Linked DNA regions of Homo sapiens: all the other regions are linked to region 4. Evidence: fine-mapped expression QTL. A gene starts in region 4. Each other region holds a variant in brackets. All regions are shown on one strand. Distances are between the middles of the regions. Region 1 overlaps FMN1 (formin 1). Region 2 overlaps FMN1 (formin 1). Region 3 overlaps FMN1 (formin 1). Region 4 holds the start of FMN1 (formin 1). Region 5 overlaps FMN1 (formin 1). Region 6 overlaps FMN1 (formin 1). Region 7 overlaps FMN1 (formin 1).

What was found.
Region 1: its variant is fine-mapped to the expression of FMN1 in thyroid (GTEx, PIP above 0.99).
Region 2: its variant is fine-mapped to the expression of FMN1 in whole blood (TOPMed, PIP above 0.99).
Region 3: its variant is fine-mapped to the expression of FMN1 in whole blood (INTERVAL, PIP above 0.99).
Region 5: its variant is fine-mapped to the expression of FMN1 in atrial appendage (GTEx, PIP above 0.99).
Region 6: its variant is fine-mapped to the expression of FMN1 in monocytes (Quach 2016, PIP 0.95).
Region 7: its variant is fine-mapped to the expression of FMN1 in whole blood (TOPMed, PIP above 0.99). The same link has a PIP of 0.9 or more in blood mononuclear cells.

The regions. Positions count from the first base shown.
Region 1 is chr15:33,067,744-33,071,812 of GRCh38, reverse strand. All of the region lies in intron 5 of FMN1 (formin 1), which reads left to right. It overlaps LOC124903459 (a long non-coding RNA gene), which reads right to left. Exons shown (of 2, transcript XR_007064574.1): 1 at 2,095-4,069; 2 at 1-923. Among named protein-coding and RNA genes, the nearest start is that of FMN1, 120 kb to the left of the region's middle. RefSeq lists an enhancer at 3,923-4,069. The variant C/T (reference allele first, on the strand shown) is at 1,714.
Region 2 is chr15:33,126,548-33,130,616 of GRCh38, reverse strand. The region is part of intron 4 of FMN1 (formin 1); the gene reads left to right. Among named protein-coding and RNA genes, the nearest start is that of FMN1, 66 kb to the left of the region's middle. The variant C/A (reference allele first, on the strand shown) is at 1,896.
Region 3 is chr15:33,081,625-33,085,693 of GRCh38, reverse strand. The region is part of intron 5 of FMN1 (formin 1); the gene reads left to right. Among named protein-coding and RNA genes, the nearest start is that of FMN1, 110 kb to the left of the region's middle. The variant G/A (reference allele first, on the strand shown) is at 1,769.
Region 4 is chr15:33,192,237-33,196,305 of GRCh38, reverse strand. FMN1 (formin 1) reads left to right here and starts at 1,592. Exons shown (of 21, transcript NM_001277313.2): 1 at 1,592-1,728; 2 at 2,246-2,397. LOC105370759 (a long non-coding RNA gene) reads right to left here and starts at 1,395. Exons shown (of 3, transcript XR_932090.3): 1 at 731-1,395. RefSeq lists silencers at 1,290-1,499, 1,274-1,613.
Region 5 is chr15:33,109,728-33,113,796 of GRCh38, reverse strand. The region is part of intron 4 of FMN1 (formin 1); the gene reads left to right. Among named protein-coding and RNA genes, the nearest start is that of FMN1, 83 kb to the left of the region's middle. The variant C/T (reference allele first, on the strand shown) is at 2,407.
Region 6 is chr15:33,135,051-33,139,119 of GRCh38, reverse strand. The region is part of intron 4 of FMN1 (formin 1); the gene reads left to right. Among named protein-coding and RNA genes, the nearest start is that of FMN1, 58 kb to the left of the region's middle. The variant C/T (reference allele first, on the strand shown) is at 2,524.
Region 7 is chr15:33,103,042-33,107,102 of GRCh38, reverse strand. All of the region lies in intron 4 of FMN1 (formin 1), which reads left to right. Among named protein-coding and RNA genes, the nearest start is that of FMN1, 90 kb to the left of the region's middle. The variant A/G (reference allele first, on the strand shown) is at 2,534.

The sequences.
Region 1 (4,069 bases), 120 kb after region 4:
TTATTTGAATATTACAATCTGAAACACTCTCATTCCCTGAGTGACCAGCAGTGGTAACATTTTTTATGGTCATGAGAACCAGTGGCTTGAAAGAGTCCGTGTTAAAAGATCTCTTTGAATCTTACTCGTGCTCCTGTTACTCGTGTTCATATTTAAATGGTCACTGCTGGCTTTCATTCAAAATTGTTTCAGGTCTAGCTATTACTATTAGACTGAACCTGGGGGATAAAGTCCTTGGTTACAGTCTGTAAACAAGAGTCTCCTCTTTCTAAATAGAGATCTCCAACTAAACTACACATTTCATGGAGGTGGAAGGCAGGGCTATCTTCATTCTTATGTCCTCACAGCCTCATTCATTGTTGGTGCTCATTTATGACATTGGATGAAGAAGTCTTCTTAATAGAAGTCATGCTTCATAAATGAAGGAGAATGGTAGGGGCAAACTGGAAAACCTTGATGTGTTTGAGCCCAGAGGATTCCGTGTCTCTTCTGTGTTAGATAGATAGGCCAGCTAGGTTTACTGGAATTTTTGCTTGATTTTTCTTTCCTCTCTCTCCATTTTTTCCTAAGAAAACTTGTAGATTTTTCCCCAAGTTATGCAAAAGAAAAGAACAGTCATCCTCAGTATAAGGTTGTTGTTTTTTGTTTGTTTGTTTGTTTTTGGTGATGTTTGTCTTCTGTGTCATTTAAGAGGATAAAGTATACTTCACATCCCAGTTAAAGACCACCAATGAACTGGGCTGAAACCTTTGCACCTCGCTGTGTGTGGTCTTCTATTCGGGAAGGAAGTGGAGCCTCTGGGCTTTCGAAGAGTGGTTGAGAGTGTGGATGCTGGAGCCTGCCTGCATGGATTCACATTATACTTCCACCATCCACTGTTTCTGTGGACTGGCAAGACTTTTAATCTTCTGTGCCTCGGTTCTCTAGCAGGAAAAAGAGAATAATAATAATAACAACTCATAATATGGTTGTTATCTGTATTAAGTGAGTTAATATGTGTGGAGCACCTAAAATTGTGCTTGGCACATGGTCAACCCTCAAATCTTAGATGATGTTATTCCCCACTTACTAGCTGTGTTAAGTTTGGCAAGTTACCTTCTCTCAGCTATGGTTGCTTACCTTTAAAAATGGGCCTAATAATACCTTACTTACCTAGAGCCAAGGGGATGAAATCAGATAATCTCCTGGGACCAAAGACTTGACCCACTTCCCATGAAATTGTGTTGGCATCTATGAGTATTGAGGGGATACTGAAACCTTATAATTCTGCTCCATGCCATGGTGCAGAAGGGCCAGTAGCCCCTTCCAGCATCTGTTCCATTTTGCCCAAATCTATAGAGGGGCCTGGAAGCTTATTCCAGAAATCAATAATTAGTTATGTCTGAGAAATTGAGTCTTTTCAGTTCATAAAAAAAAAAAAAAAAAAGACCAAATACGTGCCCTCTCCCACTGCCCCCTGCCATATTAGAATTGGATGATCTGCATTGCTCGTAAGAAGACTGATCTTAGGCCGGGCGCGGTGGCTCATGCCTGTAATCCTAGCACTTTGGGAGGCCGAGGCGGGCGGATCACCTGAGGCCACGAGTTCGAGACCAGCCTGACCAACATGGAGAAACCTTGTCTCTACTAAAAATACAAAATTAGCCGGGTGTGCTAGCGCATTCCTGTAATTCCAGCTACTCAGGAGGCCGAGGCAGAAGAATCACTTGAACC[C/T]GGGAGGCGGGGGTTGTGGTGAGCGGAGATTGCACCATTCCACTCCAGCCTGGGCAAGAAGAGCGAAACTCGGTCTCAAAAAAAAAAAAAAAAAAAAAAAAAAAAAGAGAAAGACTGATCTTATGATCTGTTGTGATCATTTCTTCTTTCTACAATCTTGAAGAAGCAGATGTCTGATTTTAATCAATGGGTATTTCCTCTAGACAAGAATCTTGTTCTTAGACTTAAAAGACACCATTGAATTTTTCTGCAGTGTCCTGGTGGCTTTTTGATTAAGTGCCTCAGTTAATAATTCCCAAAAATACTATGATCAGGAGCAAACAGAGAAGTACCTGTTTAAAACACAAGATCAAATCAAGATTTAGAAAGTGTTTTACTTACCCTTAGTGGTTGATGGGATGCAATGATGCGTTTTTATTTGTGTGAGCGTTCCTTTTGAATACATTGCTAGAAATGTATTTTTGCAATCAGAATTTCTCAGTATTGATGCTTAGATTGTTTTTAGTACTGAAGAACATGGCTCAAGTTATCAATGTGTGACATGCAGCCACCCACTCCTGCAGATAAAGCAAGACTGTCATTTTCCTTATGGCTACCATTTCCATTTTGCAGAAGGAATTACTGTTTGTGTTTAACACTTGACCACAATCTTCTTGGACCTTTGCTCAAACAGAGATGGCAATTACTGTTCAGCCAGTTTGACTTGCCTCTCCAACCAGAACAGTGTCCTGTCCATCCCAGGCACTCACTGCATGCCTGCTTAGTGGGACTGGATTTGGAAAACACTTGAGGCCTTCAGGTAGATAGGGAGCTGTCCCAAGAGGCAGCTATGCAGCTAGGAAACAGGGCTGCAATTTTTACCCCCATCCTTTGTTGCCAGTTTCCCAGCATATAAATAGAGTGGTAGAAACTACACTGGGCTGATGTTTGGAGGTTGTTTTGTCTGTCCTGTTTTTGTTGAGGCAAATTGGGTCTGTGATAGAGATCTGACTGATAGAGACTTTTCAGATGTTTTGCCCTTTAGGAGAACGTGGATCCTTGGGGATCTTCAAATTGTTTTGTCTAATAGGGCAGGTTGTGTGTTACACTGTGTCATGCCAGGTTTCATTTAGTTGGCTGGGACACCAAAGGGGGAGAGGCGTGTCCTGCTGCTGCCAGGATTTCTAAGGCAGCCAGGAAGTCACAGCTGCTGAGCAGAAAGAAGCCTGCGGTTGGCACAGGGAGTGTAGAGGGTAATCATTCCTGCGGAGCCTGGGCTGTTTACTCTGCCACCCTGTTGCTGGTGGACACTGGGTGTGGTGGGTGTGCTTGCCTAATACCTGTTTGTAGAGCACTGAGACAGCTAGGGCAGAGCTAAAACAGCAGTCATCTGAAACCAGTCGTGTGGGTTATCCCTCACGGGCTTTAGGAGCTAAAATCTGCATTCCAGATGAAACCTGCAGGGAAGCGGAAGAAAGCACTTAAAAAAAGCTTCAAGGGCAGTAAATTAACTGCTTTGAGAGTTCTAGGCACTTTTGAGATGATCTATTGCTTTCTTTAATTTGTTTCCTTGATTGCGGCTTCGTAAGTGGCTGCTGATCTGGGTGTACTGCTAGTTTTTTGGCCTGGATGCCCCAGGCCTCTCTGATCATAATCCAGATGAAAAAGAAGGCCTGTGTCAGAAGTATTTCAGTTGTTTTCTGCTGATTTACTTCTGATTCCCTTAGGCTGCTCTGGGCAGTGGCTAAGTGCCCTCAGTATCAGCTTGCCGGCTCAGCACTTTCAGAAGCCTTCACTTGCTCACCAATGAGGAAGTTGAATGCCACCAGGAGAACCGCCGGCCTGGGGCGGAGCTCCTCGTGAAGTCCTGGGTTGGGATTACAGGGCAGGCTGACTTTCCCTATGACAAAAAGGCTTTTGTCCCCGGGAATAAATACGGAAGTTTCAGAAGAGCAGCCTCCCTGGTCCGTGTGTAGTAAGGTGCGCAGCCTCGGCTGCTTCTGGGCATAGACTCCACAGATTTTTCACAGTTGCCCTGGAACACATCATCGCACAAACCGGAAGGAGGGCACTGTGACCCGAAAGAGACCAAGTGTGTTTGCTGTGCGGCTGACAGCCTGACTCCCGGGTCCTGTTGCTCTCTGTCCTGTAAATTAAGAGCAGATGGAGTGGATAAACTGAGAGCGCAGGAGAAGGTAACACAAGTCAGAACTTCCACCAAGGGCATTACTGAGACATGGAGAACGTTGATAATTCTCTGGATGGCAGTGATGTGTCAGAACCAGCAAAACCAGAAGCCGGACTTGAAGTGGCTCAGTCGATCCTGAGTAAGTTCTCTATGAAATCCCTATTTGGGTTTACGAGTAAATTAGAATCT
Region 2 (4,069 bases), 66 kb after region 4:
GAAAATGCATATACCTATTAACAAAATTGCCTTATATCACAGCATTTTCTTGTCATCAAAATTGCTTAAAATTAATTTTAATGTTTGCACATACTCCAGTGGATGAAATCACCTTAATTTTTTAAACCTCCTTATCTCATTCTTAGGTTGCTGATCTTTGCTATAATAAACTACAGTGCAGCCCACAACTTGTCTCAATCTCTGTTGATATTTCTACATTGTTTCATAAAACTGATTCTTAACCTTAAGCATTTGAAAAATTGTCTATATATTTAGTTTTGAAGTGTGTATATTTATGTATATACATGTAGGGCAATATTTTGAGTTCTGTACAGTCTTCTGAACACAACGAATTTCTCCTCAATGACATAAATAGTTATAATAAATAATGAAAATAGAAAGAAAATGCTAGCAGGGCAATCTTAACTGGCATAAGAGGAAGGTTTTCTGAATTTGCAGGAACTTGGATCAAGAATGAAAAAATAGGCTGGGTGCTGTGGCTCATGCCTATAATCCCAGTACTTTGGAAGGCCAAGGCAGGTGGATCACGAGGTCAGGTGGATCACGAGGTGGATCACCAAGGCAGGTGGATCACGATGGATGAGACCATCCTGGCCAACATGGTGAAACCCCGTCTCTACTAAAGTACAAAAAAAATTGGCTGGGCATGTTGGCGTGTGCCTGTAGTCCCAGCTACTTGGGAGGCTGAGGTAGGGGAATGGCTTGAACCTGGGAGGTGGAGGTTGCAGTGAGCCGAGATTGTGCCACTGCACTCCAGCCTGGGCGACAGAACGAGACTCTGTCTCAAAAAAAAAAAAAAAAAAAAAAATTGCTAGTCAACTCTTTTCTGGTCAGAGGTGTGAGCCATGGAGGCAGTCTGGTTATCTTACAAAATGTCTCAGACTTGGAGTAAAGCCCTGGGTCCATATCTTGGCTCTGCCAGTGATCAGCTGTGTGACCTGAGCCACCCTCAGATTCAGTCTCCTCATCTGTAGGATTGGGGTGACACCCACGACAGTGGATGGTTGTGAGACTCATAAGGTCATGCTTATGGAGGTGTCTGGGATGGCATGCATGCCAGGAAGTGGGCATCAGCATATACCAGTTTAACCTGTCAGTTGAAAGGTATGTTAGAAATAGAAGTATTTCAACTTACCCATGTGCAGGTACTGAGAAAGCTCTCAAAGATACCCAGATTTCAACAGTGTTTTGGTAATCTTACCACGGTTATTTATACACATTGCTACACCAGCCTCAGATTTATTTCAGCTCAGTTAAGTTTAGTGATTTACCTCATTTGGAAAAGAAGTATGGCATACTATATTATTTATATTTAAAGCACATATTTATAATCTGAAATTTCTAGATTTCACTGAGTGGTTTCAATTCCTGTCCCCAAATTCTGGTAGCTAACTGCATTGTGGTATTACTTAATTGCTGTTTTCTCCGAGTTACATTGAGCTTTAAAATATTGAGAGGTGAAGCCAGCTGGGCTTCTGGGTTTTGTGGGGACTTGGAGAACTTTTCTGCCTAGCTAGAGGATTGTAAATGCACCAATCAGTGCTCTGTGTCTAGCTAGAGGATTGTAAATGCACCAATCAGCATTCTGTAAAAATGGACCAATCAGCACTCTGTAAAATGGACCAATCAGCACTCTGTAAAATGGACCAATCAGCACTCTGTAAAATGGACCAATAAGCAGGGCATGGGTGGGGCCAAATAAGGGAATAAAAGCTGGCCACGCACGCAGGCCTCTGCAGTCTGCTCCGGTTGTCTTCCGCATTGCGGAGGCTTTGTTATTTTGCTCGTGACAGTAAATCTTGCTGCTGCTCACCGTTTGGGTCCATACCACTTTTAAGGGCTTTAAAATTCACCACATCACCTTTAAGAGCTGT[C/A]ACACTTACCGTGAGGGTCCGCGGGTTTATTCGTGAAGTCAGTGAGACTACAAACTCACCGGAGCATCCGGACGCACCGTCTTTAAGAGCTGTAACACTTGCCGCAAAGGTCCGCGGGTATGTTTGTGAAGTTAGACCACGAACGCATCGGAAGCAAGAAACTCCGGACTCGGTATGTGTTTACTTAACATATCACGCTGTTTCATTCTCAGTGTAATGACTCTGAGAACTTGCATGAGGCTTTTTATAAATGGACCTTGCAATGTCATAGGAATAAAAATTCTTTTAGGAGGTAGAAAGAATGATTTTGTTGATGAACAAATGGCGGGCAGTTGGAGTTCGGAGAGAGGCTGGTGAATCCTTGAGATCGTCAAGGATCAGGCCCGGAATCAGACCCCGTTGATGGTCGGGCCTAGTCAGCAGCCATGTTCAAATTCCCAACTGTTGCGCTTCTAATTATTGCTCTCTGAGGGTGTTGGAAATTATGGTCTTTGGTTGCTCGTAAGTCTGCTTTTTGCTTTTTTTCCCGGGAGCAATTTGTTTGCTTGCTTTATTTCTCCATCCTACTTCTGTTACACTCTCTACTGCTCCCATCACCATGGTGTCTCCTCTCCCTTCTTCTGGCCTCATTCTTGGTTTTCTTCTCCCATCTTTTTTGTCCTTTCTGTCACCTGACCTGTGTCGTGTCTGGGCATTCTGCTATGATTTGTCTATTTTCCCCTTCCCCCGTTGCCCTTCTGTTACCTTCCTTTCCCCTTTCTTTCCTTTCTCCTGTCCTGTTGCTGCCTCTTCTTCTATTTCCATCTGTCTCCATTTGTTGTAGAATAAAGAGAGGCATAAGATTCCTCGGAAACAGCACTGTCTCACTTCTCTCTTACCAACAGAATTTTTCAGGGAGACTGAGGAATGAGATCTTGGATGTGTGGCAAGATGTAGTTCTCTACAGACACTGCAAGTGGATGTGGCATTGGTTTCCCCTATCATTACAATATAACCTGCCTGAAACCACAGGTTCAGCATAGCTTACGTCCAAAGAGGGTTTCACAGCCCCAAGTGGAAGCTTCAGTTGGAATGGTGCTGAGTTTGATTGGAAAATACTTGTGTTTTAACTTCTGTCTTGGTTGACTAGCTTTAGGATGCTTACAGACTGGTTTCTGTTTTAAAAGGTTCACTGTTTAAAAACTTTATTCAGGTTGAGTTTAATGGAAAGTTACACTTGGGTTTCATTTAGTAAGTAATAGTTACCTATTTTTAGTGTTTTATTTACAGTTAGATGTAGGTTCACTCATTAACTCAAGGAAATAGTTGTTCTGGTCCATCCTTTGAGACTGGTAAAGTGGGTGGTCTGTGTATGAACAGAGTCAAGTTATTTAGAGGGATTTAGGGTCCAGGTTGAATGTGGAGGAGCATTAACCATGACGTTACTTATTTGACGGATTCTTGTTGTGAAGAATAAGGAGGGAGATCTGTGGTTAGGTAGTGATGATCCGACCAGTTGATTTTTCTTGAGATTATATTTTTGAGGAGAAACAGATCTGGCCTGACCTCCTCTCTGTTTGAGAGAATGTAACATGGGAAGTCTGCTACTGCTTGTTAACAGGATGCTATCTCGTTCATCACTCCCCCAACCAGCTCCTGATACAGTGCCTGGAAAACAGCAGAAAGCTTAATATGTCTTTTTGCAACATGCATCTTGCAGTTTTCTCAAACTCCCACATGTAGTCATGACAGCATCTTGCAAGCCTCTCCACAGAGTCAGCCAACCACAGTTCTTTGTCAGGAGTCACCTTACGTTTAATCAAGATGAAACGTTTATCCCACTTTGCAGTTATACAGCCACAGTTATTTATGGGTATCAGTTTTCCTTCCCAAAGTTTCAGAGCCAGAAGACTCGCCAGGAAGGCGGATCGAAAAGAGTTCGGGTTTCATGGCCCTGCAAACTGGCTGTTCCAGTAATCTGTCTTCCCTCCTTTCCCGAGTTTCTGCTCCAGCCTGCCTGTAGCGTAGATTGCTCTTTTATTGCCTTCGCTTCCTGTCTGCTGAGTTGGTCCCATTCTGGGCATGCTGCCAGGATTTGCAACTTAACACTTCCGCCCATTTCCTGCTGCTTCCTTTCTTCTTTCTGGTCTATTGAAGAATGGGCAGAAGTGCTAAGAACTTCAGCTAAATCTATG
Region 3 (4,069 bases), 110 kb after region 4:
TCTTTTCTATAAGTATTTTTAGGTTTTTTGATATTTATCACTAGATGAAAAATGTCTATTTCCTGAACTAGCCTTTTATGGGCTTTATATATTTATATATTACATATATGATATATAAATTATGCATATGTATATATGTATAATTTTAATATATGTATAAATACATGTGATATATATATTTGTATATATAAATACTGTGTAATTAAACAGTATATATTAGTATGTTGCTTAGTTTTTCATTAATCAGAATTATAAAACTAAAATAGTTTTTTTAGATTATTTTCTGAATCAACAGTTTTTATAGTTTGGGCCCTGTGTTTCCTTCCTCACCTCAAGCCCTTCTCCCCTCTTTGGACAGTGTGATTTGACTCCTATATGTTTAAATATTGATATTCTAGGTAAGGTTTCTATCTGAAAGGATTCTACTTATTTAGAACAAATGTGTATCCTATAAAAGACTACAAATTGGGGCAGTGTATACTGCTTGGGTGATGGGTGCAAATCTCATAAATCACCACTAAAGAACTTAACTCATGTAACCAAACAGCACCTGTTTCCCAATAGCTTACAGAAATCAAAAAGTAAAAAAAGAAGAAAAAAATAGCCTGCTGTTAATGACTAGCAGCTCACAAAAACCCCTTTCCTCTGGTGGGCTTTGGACTCTAAGCAATATATTGATCAGCCTGAGACATTGGACCAGCACTGCCGTGCTTCCAGTTTTAAACCTGACTTGCAGCGTCACAATCAGGATGTTAACTTTCTTAAGCCTTTTTCTGTGGCTACACTGACTCTCATTAGTACGTGATGAAAGGTAAAACATCTCATACTTGAAATAATTGGTGGGAGTTGGCATCCGTGAGTCAGGATGGACACTGGTGTTAAGGCTACAGCTGTTACTAAGTCCCCTCATTTAGCTGGGCATTCATCTTTTAGTTACTAAACTATGAGAAGACTCAGGGGTTCCTTGGGGAATGGCAGGAGGTGGGGTTGGTGTAGGACAAGCACTAGGAAGACTCTGGGGGCATCTATTTAACAAACTAAATGAAAACAAACAAACAAACAAAACCTCCTTTACCTTCACAACACTTCTGACATTCTGAGACCCAAGTGTACGTGTTTTTCATAACAAGCAATTCCCCAATTGCCTGTAGACACCAACTAGATGTCCCACAATTCAATTGACACGATCTACTTGGAACTGTAGCCACATCCCACAAGTTAAGGATTCGGTCCCACAAAACTGCCACACCTCAGATGCCAGTCACAAGTAGTGGGTTCCCAGGTTACCCATAACTTCTGTCCAACTTGGATACAAATAGGTTCCTATGACCCCCTCTTCGGGTTCAGTAATTTGCTAGGATAACTTGTACAACCCAAGGAAACAATTTACTGACTATTACTGTTACCAGATAGGGGTCTTGATCCAGACCCCAAGAAAGGGTTCTTGGACCTTACACAAGAGAGAATTTGGGGCAAGTCCATAAAGTAAAAGCAGGTTTACTAAGAAAGTAAAGGAATAAAAGAATAGCTACTCCATAGGCAGAGCACAGTGGTGTGGGCTGCTTGACTGAATATACCTGTAGTTATTTCTTAATTGTATGCTAAATAAGGGGTGAATTATTCATGAGTTTTCCAGGAAAGGGGCAGGGATTTCCTGGAATTGAGGGTCCCTCCCCTTTTTAGACCATATAAGCAAACTTCCCAACATGACCATGGCATTTGCAAACTGTCATGGCACTGTTGGGAGTGTCTTTTAGCATGCTGATGC[G/A]TTATAATTAGCATGTAATGAGCCGTGAGGATGACCAGAGGTCACTTTTGTAGCCATCTTGGTTTTGGTGGGTTTTGGCTGGCTTCTTTATGACATCCTGTATCAGCAGGGTCTTTGTGACCTGTATCTTGTGGTAACCTTCTTTTTTATCCTGTGACTAAGAATGCCTAATCTACTAGGAATGCAGCCCAGCAGGTCTCAGCCTTATTTTACCCATCCCCTATTCAAGATGAAGTCGCTGTGGTTCAAACGTCTCTGACATTACCAATTTATTACAAAGGATATTTTTAAAGGATACAAATGAATAGCCAGATCAAGAGATACATAGGGTGAGGTCTGGAAGGGTCCAGAGCACAAGAGCGTCTGTCCCTGTGGAGACAGAACTTCTTTGGGTAGGGTTTTTATGCAGATTTCATTACATTGGTGATTAGCTCAACCTTTAGCCTCTCTACCCTCCTGGAGGTGAGTTGTTGGGACGCAAAATGCCAACCCTAATCACAAGGTTCCCTTGGCAACCAGCCTCCCATCCTCTAAAAGTCACCTCATTAACATAAGTTCAAGTGTAGTTGAAAGGGGCTTGTTCTGAATAACAAAAGATGCCCCTTTCACCAATATTGTTTCTGAGCTGTTTCAGAAGCTGAGGACAAAAAACAAATATTACAACTTCTATATATATTTGAATATATTTGAGTATATCCAAATATTATTACTACTTCTATGGCTCTTATCACTTAAGAAGTTACGAGGGTTTTAGAAGTTCTGTCCAGGACCCAGATGAAGACGAAATATACAGTGTATTTCTCATTATATCAGTATATCACACAACTGGTACTTTGGTGTAGATGCTAGACTGCTGTGTAGGGAAGCTCTGTTTGGGTAATTATCCTGCAAATCCTGGTCAAGCAAATTCTGTAGACTATTATGGGCAAACTACAAAGCTCTGGAAAGACTGAACCCAAAGCTCTGTCAGCTCCACTTTTGGGCCATGAAGTTTCCAAATATTGTATGGGACATGCCTATATTACAAAATTTTTTGGTTTTTTTTAATCTAAAATTCATATTTAACTGGGTATCCTATATTTTATTAACTAACTCTATCACTCCTAGATATTACTTTTGAAACAAGATCCAAATGTGTGAATTGCCCTTGGGTAGCATCTATCAGTCACCCCGGAGCGCCCATTTAGGACATGAATATTAAGAAGTTAGCCTGAAGAGTCAGTTTTTTATGTTCCACTGAACTAGGAGCTACCATTAGCCATGCATCTCAGGTCCTAGGGCACTTTCAACCAGATTTATCAAAGGCAACTGAATATAGTCAGAGACTAGAGAAGCACTGGGGCCTAAATTCTTATAACAAGTGCAGTTTCCTGAAGATACCATTGGAGAGGAATGCTCACCATGGAGAATAGTTTGTAATGTGTCTATAAACAAAGACATGGGTGGGTAGAAAAGACCCTAAAAAGAGGTATGGCCTGAAATTGAAAACAAAGATATGAAAAGCAGGAAACAGGTAAGTAGTCATTAGGATTATATCCTGGTGGCAGTACTCTCTGGAAATAAGATTTTGCATGCCAGCTTTTAAAACACTTTGGGAGGCCGAGGCAGGTGGATCACCTGAGGTCGGGAGTTGGAGACCAGCCTGACCAACATGATGAAACCCCGTCTCTACTGAAAACACAAAAATTAGCCGACCGTGGCGGTGGGCGCCTGTAATCCCAGATGCTCGGGAGGCTGAGGCAGAAGAATCGCTTGAACTGGGAGGCAGAGGTGACAGAGCGAGACTCTGTCTTACACACACACACACACACACACACACACACACACACACATTGTTTTCCAGCCTGGGTGACAAAGCGAGACTCCGTCTTACACACACACACACACACACACACACACACACACCCCTGAACTCTTCTTGTTGATTCTGGTTTCCAAGGCTCATCACAATCCCCTTCTCACCTGTGAGGCCCTGCATACTTTTTACTGAATTAGCTTAATTGTCTGGGGAAGACAAAGCATCCCGTTCCAAGTAATTGTATCTTATGAACCTGGATGTAATTACCAAGGCTCCTCCCAAGCTTGACTGTCTAAACGGTAATAAGAACCTCCATGTCTTACCGATCACTTCCTAAAGGCCAGACCCTGCCCTTAGAGGTGTTAGTATACATACTGTACAAATCAGCAAGGGCACGGGCAGGATTTAAACCCAGATCTGAGTCTAGACTCAAGTACTTAAATGTTAAGTCCTTCTACCGCTCCACTACTTCTGGACTTGTTTTCTTTTGTTTTTAGTTTAAG
Region 4 (4,069 bases):
GGGAAGATATGAGGATTGAAGGAGATAATGTATATGAAGTGCCTATGGAGCCGGGCACAGCACTTCACAACTGTAATCTCGGCATTTTGGGAGGCTGAGAAGGGAAGATCGCTTGAGCTTAGGAGTTTGAGACCAGCTTGGGCAATATGGTGAAACCCTGTCCCTACAAATAAAAAATTAAAAAATTAGCTGGACATGGTGGTGCCCGCCTGTAGTCCCAGGTACTTTGGAGGCTGAGTTGGGAGGATGGCTTTAGCCCACGGGGTTGAGGCTGCAGTGAGCCAAGATCGCACCACTGCACCCCAGCCTGGGTGACAGAGTGAGACCGTGTGTTAAAAAAACAAATAAATAAAGGGCCTATCAGTGTTTGGCTAATATTGTGATTAAGAATAAATCAGAGTTCCAATAAACTATTATTTCTAGAAAAAAAATAGTGAAAAAAATCACCTTAAAAATACCTTCCAAATTTTTTTCCCATTTACTTATTTGAAAACAGAATCTATTCAGGACAAAATTCTATCTTCAAGTACCAAATGGGTGATACAGTTCGCATTTATCCAAAAGCAGATTAAAGACAATGCCTTTTCTTGCCTACCTACTTGGAAAAGATCTCAGTGTCACTCAAATCACATTCCAAATCTCAACGACATTAAGGCCTCAAATCCTCTTAGGAAAGGTTTGAAGGTAGTTCATTTCAGTAATGATTAGACACTTGGGGACAAAACAGTACCTTGGCATCAAGGTCTGTACTGATTCACCAGCACAGAAATAGCAGTAACAAGATCTTCAACTCTGAGGTGTTCAAATAAGCAGACAAACTCCCTCGTGAGGCCCAGGCCTCTTGACATCCGGACTCAGTCTTTCTTTCTCAGATCGCCAAGGGTCTGGCCCATTTCTCAGCCTAAACCTATTTTGCGTTTAATTCAAACCAGTCAAAGTAACTTAACCGCCAGCAGTTAAAAAGCTACTAGGAGGAAGCGTAGGCAGGAGATGGGAGAGGAAAAGGCTCCTGTCAGGGTTTGGGCTTATGTGTGGATTCTTGAATTCTCCTTCTTTGTTCCTTTTAGCACTTACGATCAAGAACGGCTAGGCTGAGGGGGCAGGGGGGCCAGGCCACTGGAGCGAAACGGCCTCTCCGGATCTGGAGGCGTGGGAACCTCGGGAATAGTGGGGAGTTCCAGACCAGTTCCCTTCCCCCATCTGAACAAGTCCAGAGCGTGCGCCTTGAGAGGCGCTCGGAAACAGGGAAGCTGGGGACACGTAGCGAGAGACTGGTTGTCGCCCTGGCTGTCCGTCTTAGACCTAGCTTAGCGACCACCGCCTTCAATCCCTCAGCCCGGATCAGACGGTGCCAAAAGACAGCACTGCTTCCCAGCCTGGCCCAACGGCTCGGCTGCTGATTGGGCACCGCCGCCTCCCGCCCCGCCTCCCCTGCCACCTCGGGCGCCGCTGCACGTTTCCACTGGTCTTCAGCCCTGCCGATCAGTTTACTGCTCACCTCCCCCAAACAGCTCGTCAGGCCGGCGCGTGCTAGGAAGGCGGGGCCTGTGGCCTGTGGGGCGGAGCCTCGGTGGAGGTCGGCGCAGCTGCCCCTTTGGGCTTTGGCTCTGGACTGGAGCGCAGCATCCTTCGAGGCTGCAGCCGCCACGGCTGTTGCCGTAAGCAATCCTCCTGCCTCAGCCTCCCGAGTAGCTGGGACTCGGGACCAGCCTCCCGAGTATTGGTCAGGTAAAGAGAGTCTTGTCTGTTCTGCTGGCCATCTGCCCGTCTCTTCTTCCCGACCAAAGGCTGCCTGCTCCGCCTTCCCCCGTGGCTTTCAGGGTTCTTGGAATGAGGCATCAAGTCTATTTACCCCGCCAGCTTATCTTCCTCCCCTTCTGTGTCGGTTCCTCCAGCTCCCCCACCAAGCTGCTCCCAAGTACGTTGGTGGGCCCTCCGGGTCATCCCAACGCTCCTCACTACAGAACTCCTGTCGTTGACTCTCAGGTCCCAGCCCCCTTGACCCGCCAGTGCAGTCTCATTCCCAGCTTGGCACAGGAAAGGTGGAGGGCGGGAGGGCGGGAGGGCGGGGGACGGAGAGATGCAGAGCTTTTTTTTTTTTTTTTTTTTTTTTTTGAAGCTGGATGTGTTTAGCGCAGAGGGGGAGCACCACAATGGGATTGCATTGGGAACAGAAGCAGCTTCATGACTATGGTTGGCAATGACTAGAAAGGTATCTGTTGCTGCTTTTTGCTTGTGTTTATAGATGACATTTACCATCACCGTTTTCTTCTTCTTTCATCATCATCATCATCACCATTGCCACTACCACCACCTCCAAGGCCACTACCACCACAGCATCTCTGTTCCTCCATCAGAGCTCTTCAAGTTCTGTAAAGGCAGATTCTCTAAAGGCATGTAAGTGCTGACGGATCCCCCAACCCCCTCCCCCACCACCAAATAACGAACAGTGCTCTTGCCCCCTGAGGCCAGAGCCAAGCCCTCATTTAACTCAAGAACAAGTAGCTGGGAGCAGAGTGTGAGCTGGGAGGATTTTCCTTATCCTCATTTGCAATTGAGATTGCCAAAGAAAACCCTTTATTTTAATCATCCACATTTCTGCTTGCTGTCTCCTGGAGAGTTCCATGTTAGCACTCACACACTCCGAATGGGCTGAATGCAGAGCCTGAACCTGTGATATATATGGGGAGTGGCAGTCACTGAGAGGTGAATGTCCAGACCCAATCCTTTAAGAAGACCAGGTGGAGTAGCAGACAACCTGACTTTCTGCTACAGTAGCTCCAGCTGTACTAAAGCATGTTTACTATTCATGTTTGCATATGGGACATGTGCCATCATCTGCTATGCCCCCTTGCGTGTGTATTGGCAGGGGGGCGGAGGGGCGCATCTAAATTCCTAGGAGAGAGAATTATATTCTGTTCTCTACACCAGGTAGCATCTTATAGGCACACCAATGGGATTCAACAGCCGTTGCTTAGCTGTTTCTAGGGCTTACTGCAAATCTCTTGGATCACAGACTTATTAACCCTTTTTTGGGAGGGAAAACAGTATAGCTGAGAATTGCATACCAGATTAACTGTCGTTGTGGAAGATGTTGCTTCCACAATGAATCAATGAGGTCTCGGGTCTTCTTGATCAGATATCTAAACACTAGTCTCCTTTCTCTCAACTGTGTTACAGTCCAGGAGCAGGACCAATGAATAGTTAGACATATTGCAGGAACAAAGAAGCAATGGCCTCAATGGAGGGAAACAATGGAGAAGAGTAGTGAGACAGTATATTGTAATGGCTAAACTCATAAACCTGTCAGACATAGGTTCAAATCCTGGACCAGCCACTGACTAGCTCAGTGATTTTTGCAAGTTGCTTGCCTCTTTAATTTTAATTTCTCGTCTGTAAAATAGGGATAATACTACCTGTCTCTTAGGAGAAGGTGTGAGGATTAAACGAGATAATATAGGTAAAATACTCAGTAGTTTCTGGCACATAAGTGGGGAATTTATAGTAACTGCTATTAATAATACTAGTCAAGAAGGATAATAAAGGCCAGTCTCGTTCCTAAAAATTATGCATTTTTTTCCATTGTCTTTATCCTTTTTAGGTGTCAGAGCTGATGCAAATGGGGTATGGTAGTCTTCAGGTTCCTTATAGCACTACATCTTAGAGGGGTGCCACTATTGAAGCCACCTGTGTTTGGACAGGCATTTCTCTCACCAGCCTTCACAAGTACTTAGCCGATTCTTAGTTGAGATACGTTAAAGATGCAGCTTTAGAGAAGATTTCCAGGCCTCTGGCCCTATTCTAGACTGCTTCTTTCTCACTGAGTGTTCAATGCATTGACTGTGATTGATGAAGCCTTTGTCACAGGCTTAACCCTGCCTAGACCAAATGCTTTGGCCAAGGGAATGGGGTCCCATAGGACCTATGATTGTCTAAGGGTAGGTCTCATATCCTGGTCATCCTCCCTTTCCAGACATAAAATTGGTGGAGCTGTTCCCAGAGGAAGAGGAATGGGGACAGACTGGAACTTGATGTGATGATGGTAAATATCCTTGATAGAAAATTGAGA
Region 5 (4,069 bases), 83 kb after region 4:
TGGAAGGAGTCACAGATGAAAGAACTGACGTGGCCATGGAAGCTGGCTCTGAGGTGGAGCACCAGGAATCCAATGCACAGTGTTCAACGTGGGGCCCCTGTCTAGAAGGGGGAGAAGTAACAGAAGGTGGGTGGTGGTACTATTTAAATTGGGGTATGAGGTGGGCTGTAGAGGAAGGTGCCTCCGTATACTGACACTGGATGATTTTTGTGTTTTCTGTAGGAGCGCAGGTATTGACTAAAGATGGGGGAGCAGGGTCGTACTTCATGGAGGAGCAAACTGTTGTTGGAAAAAAGAGGCTGCATAATTGTCTATATCGTACCCTATGTTCACATCTATGTTACATAAACAGTATAAGACAACAACAAAAATTTTGTAAAGAAAGAAAGGCTGGAATGAAATCACTGAACTATTAATTGAAAAAAATAAGCTTATATAGTTTAAAACAATAGATAATTCAAATTTTGTAGTGGACCTACGTTACAAATACATGGCAACACTCATCCTGTTTAATTACTTCACTGAAGTTGTTTGAATTCATGTCAAGGAGCCCACTGACCTTTAGGTAAGAATATGTCAGAAAGTGAGCAACCCCCTAACAAATGATCACACAGTACACAGGTCAAGCTTTGGCCACAAAGCATCCAAATTACACCAATAAATGCAGATATTTGAAACAGCATATTGAGAGGTAGATATGCCTTGGGGGTGTTAAACACTTTGGTTGTACTTTAGATATAAGTATTTTGTTCTTTTGTTCCGCCACACTGAGGCATTGTGAAGAAAATAGAGAAGACACTGTTGTCAAAGCACCTAACAGCGAAGGTTCTCTTAGACTTTCCCTGCCTTCCCCTTTGTCCCAGTACACCAGGACTGCCTAGGGCAGCTGTAACCTGGAGGCTTAACCTTTCTGACGATATAAACCCAGTAGCTGTGTAGGCCTTGACATTTGGATAACTCTGCTGCAAATGCCCTTCATTTCTTGCCATTTACCCACACCACTTCCTAGCAACCCACATTTCCCATGTGATCTCTAGCAGAACAGGGAAAATATCCTAAAATTCTGTTGATTGGGCAGCCGTGACTGTTATCACGTACTCAACAAGTAGTGGTGAAAAAATACACCAGATGTACAAGTAGAATATAGGCCAGTCAGTTGATGAGCTGGAATTTTTGTAACCACCTTCTTGCCTCTAATATCTTTGGAGTGTTTTTATGATAGGGGTTAAACTAAGCACTAGTGCCTGAAATTCTTTGCTGCAGGTACCGAATGCTCTTAGGTTCGGCATCTCTAGGGAACCTTTTAATTTCATTGCATAGTTGTGCTTAGTACTTGTTTAATGGAGCAATAACAGTTCCTCTTTTCTTAATTAAAAGAATTATGTAAGAAAACTAGTACAGAACAACAAAATCTTCTATAATCCAACCACCTCAACTCTTCATAGAGATAGGTGTTTTTAAATAACAAAGGTCATGGAAACAAAATTATATAAAAATATTTTGTTTTATGCACTGCCACCTAACATTATTTCAAACTTCTAATGTTTATATACCATCTCTTTAATTATACCTTTATAATTTTAAGGGGTAACATTTTATCATGTAGATGACTATGGTACTAAATCCATTATTAGACATTTAAATTGTTTCCAAGTTGAAACCAATAAAAATGCTGTGGTTAAAATCTTTATTTATATAGCTTTTTGTTTTCATAGACATGAAATTGTAAAAAGATACAAAAACTTTGTTAACACTACAGTTCTTTCCAAAAAATTACAGTAAAATGTGATACAACCAATTCATATAAAATGGTAACTTGAGTCTTTTTAAAAACAGCTTTATTAAGATATAATACACATGCCATATAATTCACTCATTTAAAATGTACAATTCAGTGGTTTCTAATATATTCAGTTGTACAACCATCATCAAAATCAACTTTATAACATTTTCATCACCTCCCCCAAAACCCCCATACCATCAGAAGTCACTCACCATTTTCCCACAACCCCGTCCAGCCCAAGTTATCACTGAGCTTCTTTCTGCCTCCGTAGATTTGCCTGTTCTGGAAATTTCATGTAAGTGGTATCATGCAATATTGTGGTCTTTGTGACTGGCCACATCTACTTAGCATGTTTTTGAGATTTTTTTATAGGCAAAAGATACTCCTTCATATGGATATAGCACATTTTGTTTATCCATTCATAAGTAGACAAACATTTGAGTTATTTCCACCTTTTGGCTATTATGCGTAATGCTACGAACATTTGTGTACAAGTTTTTGTGTGGACATGTGCTTTTATATTTCTTGGATTTATTTCTAGGAGTGAAATTGCTGAGTTGTATTCTAATTCTTGATTTAACCTTTTGAGGAAATGCCAAGACTGTTTTCTGGAGCTGCTGTAC[C/T]ATTTTAGGCTCCCACCAGCAATCTTGTGAGAGTCCCAACTTCTTCACAGCCTCATGAACACTTGTTGTTATCTGCCTTTTTAATTATAGCCATCCCAGTGAAGTGGTATCCTACTGAGGTTTCGATTTGCATTTCAAAGGATCCTTTAAGTTTTTTTATTTTTTAAATTAACTTGTGTAGGGTTGAAAGCATTTTACAATGTACATTTTAAAAATCAGTGTGATTTATAGAGGGCATGTGCAAAGCACCATGGAAAACACACAAATGAATCATCTCATAGATTGTGAGGGAAATGGAAATATGCCATGAGAAATGAATGTAAGGTCAGGAATAGCATACCATAAAAATGTAAAACTAACATTTGAATGGCAGTTTATAATTCCATAGCACTTTTTCACATGTGTTAACTCATTTACTCGGAATAATTATCATAATTGCTGTACAAAGGCATCTTGAAAAATGTAAAGGAGTTGTTTTTAGAACTTCTTTAAGGTTAGTAAAAATATACTGCATGCCAAGACATTAAAAATTGTTTTAATGTGGGAAAATTTTAATGGACTAAAAATACTGACAAGTTGTTCTTATTTTTGTTTTAATAACAGAGAAAATGGCTAAAGGAATAGCAAAATAGTTTTAATTGGGATTTAATATTGCATTTTTAAATAAAAGACTGTTAGTCATCAAAATGCTTTAATGATCTGTGTTTATATAAATTTAATCTGAATATAATCAAATATTAAAAAGAAAAAGAAGCGTCAATGTGAGGGGCGGGGGGACGTGTTTTACTGATATTATTTGAGATGCATGACAGAATAGCTATTCTCAAAAAATGCTCTCCTTGGTTAATACAGAATTTTACCTTTTTGTTACAAAACTATTATATGGCCATTATAGAAAAATATAGAAGATTCATAAGGATACGAAAAAAACCTTCCATTATCACCACCCATAGAAAAATTACTGCTAAAATTTACATTTATTTCCAGTCTTTTTACTGTACTTTAAAAAATTTCCTGAACTTGATACATAACCTTTTGGTTCCACATGTTATAAGCATTTCCTGTGTTTTTTAACTTTTCATAAATATTGTTTCAGTTATTGTGAACAATTCTGCAAAGAGAATAGACCATCTATGTATTATTTACCTAATTCTGGACACTTTACTTGCTTATGGTTTTTTAGTGTCCTAATAATCTGACAGGTATTTTTGCATAGAATGTTTGCATTTTAGAGAATTTGTTTATGGTAGATTCCTAGGAGAAGCGTTATATTGTCAAAAGTATGACAATTATCAGTTATTTTAATATTTATTACCAAATTGTTTCTCCAAATTTTATTCAATATACTTTTTGCCTGAAGAGTATTCGTGCACTTACCCATTTATGTATTCAATAAATATTTAATGGGAACTTGCTGTGTCCAGTTGCTAGGTGAAGTGCTGGTGCTAACTTAAACATCCATGGGCACTGTCTTACTTTTTTAGGTTTTTAAGGTTTTAGACTTCCTGATTTACAGTGAAATGTTCTTTGAGCTTGCATTTTTTTTTTTTAACTTTCATTTTAGATTTGGGGATACATGTAAAGATTTGTTACATAGGTAAACGTGTCATGGGGGGTTGTTGTACATATTATTTCATCACCCAGGTATTAGGCCCAGTATCGA
Region 6 (4,069 bases), 57 kb after region 4:
ATTAAACGTCTACTTTTTCATTAATTAAGTTATGATAGTCTGTTACGTGTCATAATCTTACATAATTATTAAAATATCATTAGTAATATCCCCAGACTGGAAAATTGTGGGCTTGGTATGGCCAGTGTGCCTCTCATCCTCTCCTAGTCCTCCATTCACCAGAAGAGATTAGACGAACCTACTCATCATTACTTCATGAAGAACTTCTCCAGGGTCTTGAAATACAAGGAGATTTTGAGGTTAGGTCAGAGATAGTGAAGGGCCAGAGCAGACTTTGGAAGGATGCTGCTCCTAGCCTCTGCCCTGAACCCTTTGTTTTCCTCTCCCACTACTATGGCCACCATCTCTTCATGCTGGGAGGGACATAGCATGATGATGTGAACCGATATCTGAGCCAGATTGGAGCCCTAAATCATAGCTCTCATACTTAGAAGAACCCTGTGTTTTAGAATAATCAGAGCTTTGTTTCAAAGCTGTGTACCTGGTTTAATGAAGACAGCAATAGTATCCTCACTTCCAGGAGGAGTCAGGTTATCTAGTAACCCATGAAAATACAAAGTTTGCTAGGATAATTCAAGCCTCTGTATGCCCACATTGAGAGGTTAGACAAGAGGAAGGTGGCAGTATCTCGCTGGGAACGTTGAGGGACGTGCCAGACTGTCCTTGGGGAGAGATGTCAGAGGAGGAGATGATGGGAATATAGGGACACCTGCATAGGCCACATTGCATTAGCAAAAGGGAAGAAAAATGAAACTGAATGAAGCTAGTGAGGATAAGGAGCAACAGCTGCAGAGCCCAGGAGCCAAGAGTCGGTGATACATTTCACCTACTCATCTTTAGGTTACTCGATAGAAATCTGATTCCCTCAAGTACAGGCAGTCAATGATAGTGTTCCTGCTGACAGAGCATTTCCTGGAGGCCTTTTCCAATGTTTATTTTATCTGCTCATGTGCCTTCATCACTTTCGTTGTCCTGTGTCATAGCAGGCAGTTGTGCTTATGGATACTGGTTAACAAATAGCAGTAACAGCAACAGCAGTCCTTTATTCTTGTGTACCAGATACTGACTTGGACAGTTGACAAATATTGTATTGAAGCCAAACCATAATCTACACAATAGTTATTATTATCTCCATCTTACAGAGGAAGCAATGGAAAGTCAGAGAAGTGAAGTACGTGGCCCATGTCACCCAGCTAATAAGAGGCAGAACCCAGAGTCACACCAGGTCTGGCCGACTGCAGCTGCAGTCCCTCATCTCTTCATGACTGTGCCTTGTAACAGGGGATGAGTTGAAAACCTGGAACACAGCAGAAGGGCAATTTGTTGGGCAAGCTGTATGGTGGTGGGTTCTTTAAGAAACCGCAGTACCTGATGCTCCCCTCTTAGCTCTGATGTCTGTAATCATGTAGAGAAGCCATACCCCAGTGTAAAGAAATGTGCAAGCATTTTACATAGTATGTTGAAAGGAAATACATTGTCCGGTGGTGGTAGGAAAAGTAATTTCTTGTATGGAATCTGAATAAAAATCAGAATCCTCTCCTGGGAAGAAATGTGGACACTTCTTTGGTGATATCATTAAACATTATCCTCTGAGCTCATTAATCTGGGGCTCTACTGATCAGTCATGTCTTACTCTTTGGGATTAGTTTGGAATCATACAGATTTCCTTTTTCCTCTTAGAAATATATATAGCTACCCTTCTCATTCAAGGTAGGCAGAGGGAACTCTGGAATGCTTCTAAAACTCCTACCCTGGCCTCTTAAGTAGAAGAGGCAAATGTAGAAGAGGTGCTTTGCTACTGAGTGCAGGCAACAGTGAAGGTCCCATGGCAACAGGGAATGGGGAAAGGCAAGGGTGGCATGGGCTGAAAGCCAGCTGTGAATAAGAACCACCAATTTCAGTGACATCTGTGGGTACACACTTCATTGCTTACCCAGAACTTTTACATACATTGTTATCAGATTCTCTTAAAAATCCCTGTTTGGGGAGGGTATGTTTTTCTGTCTTTTTTTTTTTTTTTTTTTTTTTTTTTGAGACGGGGTCTTGCTCTGTCGCCCAGGCTGGAGTGCAGTGTTGTGATTTTGGCTCACTGCAACCTCTGCCTCCCGGGTTCAAGCGATTCTTCTGCTTCAGCCTCCCAGGTAGCTGGGACTACAGGCTCCCGCCACCACGCCTGGCTAACTTTTGTATTTTTAGTAGAGACAGGGTTTCACCATGTTGGCCAGGCTGGTTTCGAACTCCTGATCTCAGGTGATCTGCCTGCGTTGGCCTCCCAAAGTGCTGGGATTACAGGCGTGAGCCACCATGCCTGGCATGTTTCTGTCTACTTTAAAAAATTATTTATTTGGTTATGTTCTACCTCATTCCAGAAATCATTTAAGGGACTTGCATTCAATATAGCAGATAAAAATACCTTTAAAACAGGTGATAGAAATTAAAGAGAAAACATTGTTTTTAGGGTTATATTGACCAGCACAAATTTATCTTGACTGATGACACATTTCAGAGCCAAACCCTGTAGAG[C/T]CATTACCACGATCCTTGCTTCTGTTTTTAGGAGGAAATAACTAAAACATGGTTCATCAAAAAAAACCACTTGCTTAGACATTTTCACCCTGAAATCTGTTATAAAATTAGGAAGTGGGAGTTTAAGAACTATTCCATAGTCCTATTTGAAGCTCTTCCCAAACACGTCTGTCTCTGTGTTTATGGTTATACGTCTTTCTTGTCTACGTGGGTAGACTGTATATATGCATAAAAATGTGTGTTTTTCATATTCTCCCATGAAATTTAAACCTCTCCAAGACATATACTTTTGTGCAATTTTTAACAGTCCTGTCCCTGAAGCAGATAATGACATCTCTCTTTGAGTGAGGATGGAGCTAAGACTCAGAGAGGGTACCTTGCTAAGTAAACAGCAGAGGGACAACATTGATGTTAAATCCTGTGTCCTCCCTTTGTACCACATTGTGATGTCATGGGGATAATTTCAGTGGCCATGAAGCCATCTGCTCTGAACTTAAGTAGTGAACACAGCTCCATCATTCTGATTATTTATATTTATATCTACAAAAGCATTCAAAACATTTTTTATTCAACAAATATTTATTGAATCCCTATCATATATTCATCATTGTTCTAAGTATAGTAGACAGAGCAGTAGGCAAAACAGAAAAAAGCAAAGCTAATTCCTGTCCTCATGGAGCTCACACTCATTCTAGAAGGGTGAAGACCAAAACATAATCAGCCAATTGTATACTCTATGTACAGCAGGGCATGTGGGTGATGGGAAAAGACATTCCATGGTTTTTTTGGTTCATAGAATAGAACAGTTAGTATTGGTACGCAATGCACGATAAGAATTCTATCCAGTGTTAAGTAGTATATTTTAAGAACATTGCATAACCTTGGGGAAGTAACCTAACTGATTCCACTAGCATTCCAACAGAGAGAGTCCCATCTTACACAGTCCTTGCCAGCCAAGCTCTCGGTTTCTCCAGCTTCACTAACCTCTGGCACGAGGCCTCCTTGTTCCTGAGGGAACTGCTTTTCTCATATTTCAGAAGGACAGTGCATACTTGTGTCAAGCTGAAAGGGATCTTTCCTACTTGATGCCAGCGAGAAGCAGTGCCAGGGAAGACAGACTGACAGAGCAGACATTCTCCTCCCTAACTGGGTTATTCTGTGCTGTGCTGTGCAGTGGCTTATCTTATTTTGAGATCTTCCTGCTGTTGTCCAGTTTGTACCAACATTGCAAAATCAATATTCTCTTTATTTCTAAGGGCACATTTTTACAAAACAGGACTTCAGAAAAAGGGTGAGATGATAAAGACTCTCAAAAGGTTACACTGGCCTTTTGAAAAAATAATTTATGTAGAGAACCTTCTAGCGCAAGATCCTCAAATAGTTGTATATTTAACATCTAAAGTGCAAGTCAAACATTTTGTGTGAATTTTGACACTTAAAAAACATTCCTTGGGAGACCAAAAAAAGCGGGGCTTTGGAAGATAATATGAAGGGAGAAACTCAAAAAGCAAAATATTTCCCATGTATAGGCTACCTTTATTTTAGC
Region 7 (4,061 bases), 89 kb after region 4:
AGCTATTTAATTAGGTGGGAAAGACTGGGGGAAGAACAAAGTTAGAAGGAAAATAAAGAGTTTGGAATGAGTATTAGCCAAGCAATGAGTAGAGTACTTGGGTGCCTGTATGAGATAGGGCGAGAGCTTATGGCCAGATACATTAATTTGGAAGTCACTAGAGCTGAGATGATATTTAAAACTGAGACTGAATGAGATGACAGATGGAGTGAATGAAGACAGAGAAGATTCTGCACATATCTTTGGGGTGCTGAAACATTTAGAGCAGTGCTTCTCAACTAGGGGCGATTTCAGAGATTTTAGTTGGCCAAGGGATTGGGGAGGGGATGCTACTATTAACTAGTGAGTAGAGGTCAAGGGATGCTGCTGAACATCCTATTGTACAGTGCAAAGGTCATCCTCCCACAGAAAACAGTTATCTGGCCCAAAATTTCAATGGTGCTGAGATTTAGAACACTGATTTAGAAGGATGAGGAGCCAGCAAGGCAACTGAAGAGTGAACAGTGAACTCAGGAGAACTTGGATGGAAAGAGTGTTTTCTGAAAAGGAACTTCAAGAAAAAGTATGCATTCAACCCTGCTGGATGCTCCTGAGAAGTTCCATGAGATGATGAAAATTTGGGGATATATCAGAATGACTCAAAATTCCTCTAAAAGCTAATAGATTTAAATGATGTTTATACACTTTTGTAGAATCATGTACACATTGAAGAAAGCTGACTTTAAAAAAAAGGCCACAGAGACAATGCCAAATGAAATTTTGGCATTCTCGTTGCTTAGCGTTTTGTGTCTGTGTGTGTGTGCGTGCGTGTGTGTGTGTGTGTGTGTGGATTCTGGTTAGCTGTAATCAAAATAGGAATTTATTTACAGAACATTATGGTATGTTAAGAAGCAAGGAAAAATTGAATAGTAATATTGGGCCAGGTGGCAACCAGGAAGTACTGAGAATCCCATAAGCAAAAGTTCCTGGATATTTTCTGCCATTTATAAGATTCAGATCCAGCGACTCCAGATCAGGTTGAGACATGGCTGCTCAGAGCCTCCCCTTATGTACTGGGAGCAGTTCCGAGAGAAGGCAGAACAATCATGGGATGGACAGCCATTCTAAGGGGTACTTTCCAGCTTTCACCCCTTCATGCTACACATCAAAGAGCAGCAGACTCAGCTCTACCAGGCATAACTGCAAACCCTTTCTCACTAATAGGAGACAGTACAAGCTCAGACAGTAATGAGATCTGGAGTGATGCCATAGGCACCCTGTTCTTTGAGTCGTTGCTGAGAAGTTTTTTTTTTCTTGTCCTATTACAACATTTTATAACCTTATGAATCAATGGATACTTTTATTGTAAATAATATATCCCAGTAGTGAGACCAAAAAAAAGTGAAGAAAAGGAAAAGTAGATATTTATTGAAAGAGAAAACAGGAAGTAATTAATCTTTAGATATCCAAACAGTACATAAGAAAATACAGTTTTAGTCAAGATTCCCTATTTTTCCGCCTGATCTCAAAGCCATATAGTCTGTAAACCTTTCCCCAGTCATTACCCATTTCAAGTCAGCCTTGCCTTTAGGCAGCATTTCAGCTGGTCTGGATTCTTTGGTGAAGACAACCGTTTATTTCTGAGAAGTCTGAACCATTGACAGTCCATCTAGATAATATTATGGGAGTCTTCTGCTAAATTATCCTCTAGATTCCTCTGATACCCCACCAAATCCCCTACAATCCTATTTTTAATAGGGTAAATTATGCTAGCTATTAATTGCAACCCCTACCCTTTTATTGTCCGTTTTATTTTTTTCTTGACAGGAGGATCTCAAAGTGGCCCAAGGAAAGTCTTTGTTTCTAATTCTGAGGGATGACCCCTGCTCCCCAGTTCTGACCAGTGGGGACATAGCTCCATTTAGTAATGAAACATCCAGAGCACAGAGAGCACCTGTCTTAGAATCATTACAGCCAGGGGAAAAAAATGTTTAATATTAACCCTTTGGTTGCTCATTCCCTCTTTGAAGACAGTGAGAGAGATTGTGTCAGACCAGAGCATGTACTATGTAGTGAGATAGCTCCCCAGCTTGCAAAGTGCCACATCCCAGGGCATCTCCACCACCTCTCAGAGCTCTTGGAGAGGGAGAGGGTCATTCTATCTTTTGCTTATTGCTTATCACAGAAATCACCACCAATTAGATTCAGCTTTTTGCTCTTTCTTTGGATGGTGCAAATATTAAGACTGAAATTAGCATTGTTTTTAACATAGAAATGATATATTTTAATTTCTGCAAAGCAAGTAGTGTCAAATCCCTTTAGTAAAGTAATACCTTTACAAATTTATATCAAATTATCTCATTTTTCCTTTACTCTTTTTTCTTTTTCAGTTAATTCACACAATCCTTGGCTCCATGGAAAATCACAAAACTATTTGAGAATTACATTAGGTGGAAAACATTGCTTCAGGAATACATACGTATTACTAGCTTCCCTAGTAATTTTATTTTCATTTCCTTTAGCTGATTGAGTTCTCAGTGACTGGCGCTATCTT[A/G]GGTTCATCTCATGTTTCAGTTGTGCTGAGTGAGTCCTCTGTTGTATCATTTTCCCCAACCACATACCAGGGTGGTTGTGGCTTTCAAACTTCCTGCATCTCTATCAGTAATACATATAATTGTCATTTCAAATAAAAAGAAAATAAATTATTTGGTGCTTCTATTCCTTAGCAACAAGTCACTGTTGTGACTCATTTTAAATTGTAAATCGTGAAAATTTGGCAAGAAAGTCCACTTACATATTTATAAGTAAAATTTAAGCCCAAAGTAAAAACATGACTCCTGAAATACTTGTCAGCACCATACAGTTCAGTCTAATGCTCTTTGTTGTTTTGAAGCCATTATTGACAAATTTGTGCATCTTATCATTTCTTACCAATGTGAGTCTCAAAAGTTTCTATTTTATCATTTGGTGAAGTCGTTTTAGGGAATGTTTATCATGCACTTGACTGTATTGATAAAAGTTTTTTTCAGCTGACAAATATATGATGAACTCAATTTTATTCTTAGTACAGATTTTGTTAACTTTAAGGATCAGTTCCTTCCTGAAAATTTTGCCGATGAAGTTAATTTTCTTTTAGTAAATTGATTTTTCTTCTGACTTGCATTTTAAATTGGAGCTGTATTTTCTGGTAGGATTATGCCCCCAAGGCATGGTAAAATAACATTTGAAATTACCTCAGGGGGAAGAAAAGGGCAATTTTCAGATAGTGATAAGATGCTAAAAACAGGTTCCTAAATTAAAGATGATTTGGGTTAATTTTAAGCTTGACCAAATAAATTCAAGGTGTAATAGAATAGAAACCATGATAACTTTGCTGAACAAAACATTCTGAAAAGACCCTGGCACCTTAAATACTCTTCTACATAACAAAATGAAGCTCATTTTGGTGGATTAGGGTTTTTGTTTTTCTCCTTTGGTATATTTTAGTTTGAAGGGAGGATGAGAAACAACATTTCAAATATTTCACAATGGATAAAATTAGAGAACACATTTGTTGAACCATTCATTGGAACTCGAAAGTGAATCCTTTGGAGAAATGGAGCTCTGTCTCATTCTACCTTTTTGCCCTCTACAGGGTCTAATTCAGCACTGAGCAGAGAGTAATAATTCTAACAGCCAGTGTTTATGTACTATAGGTGCCAGGCACTGCTCTGAGTCCATTGTATAATATTAACTCTTTAATCTTTATAGTAACTCCAGAAGGTGAGAACCATTATTTCCCCCTTTCACAGAGGAGACTGGGACATAGAGAGGTTAAACAAATTGCCAAGGTCTCTTGGCTAGTAAGAGGTTGGAGCTGAGATTTAAACCAAAACTGTTCTGCTACAGAGTCTATGCTAAGCTCAATAGTAAGTGTTCATTAGGACTGATAAAAAAGAGTAGATCTTATCACCTGAAAAACCTGGATGTTCTGAACATAAAACTGTTCATGTAATGTATATTCAACAATTATTGTATTCAACAGATATTATTATATATCTACTAAACACAGGCACTGTGTCAGATGCTGGAGTGCCTGGTAC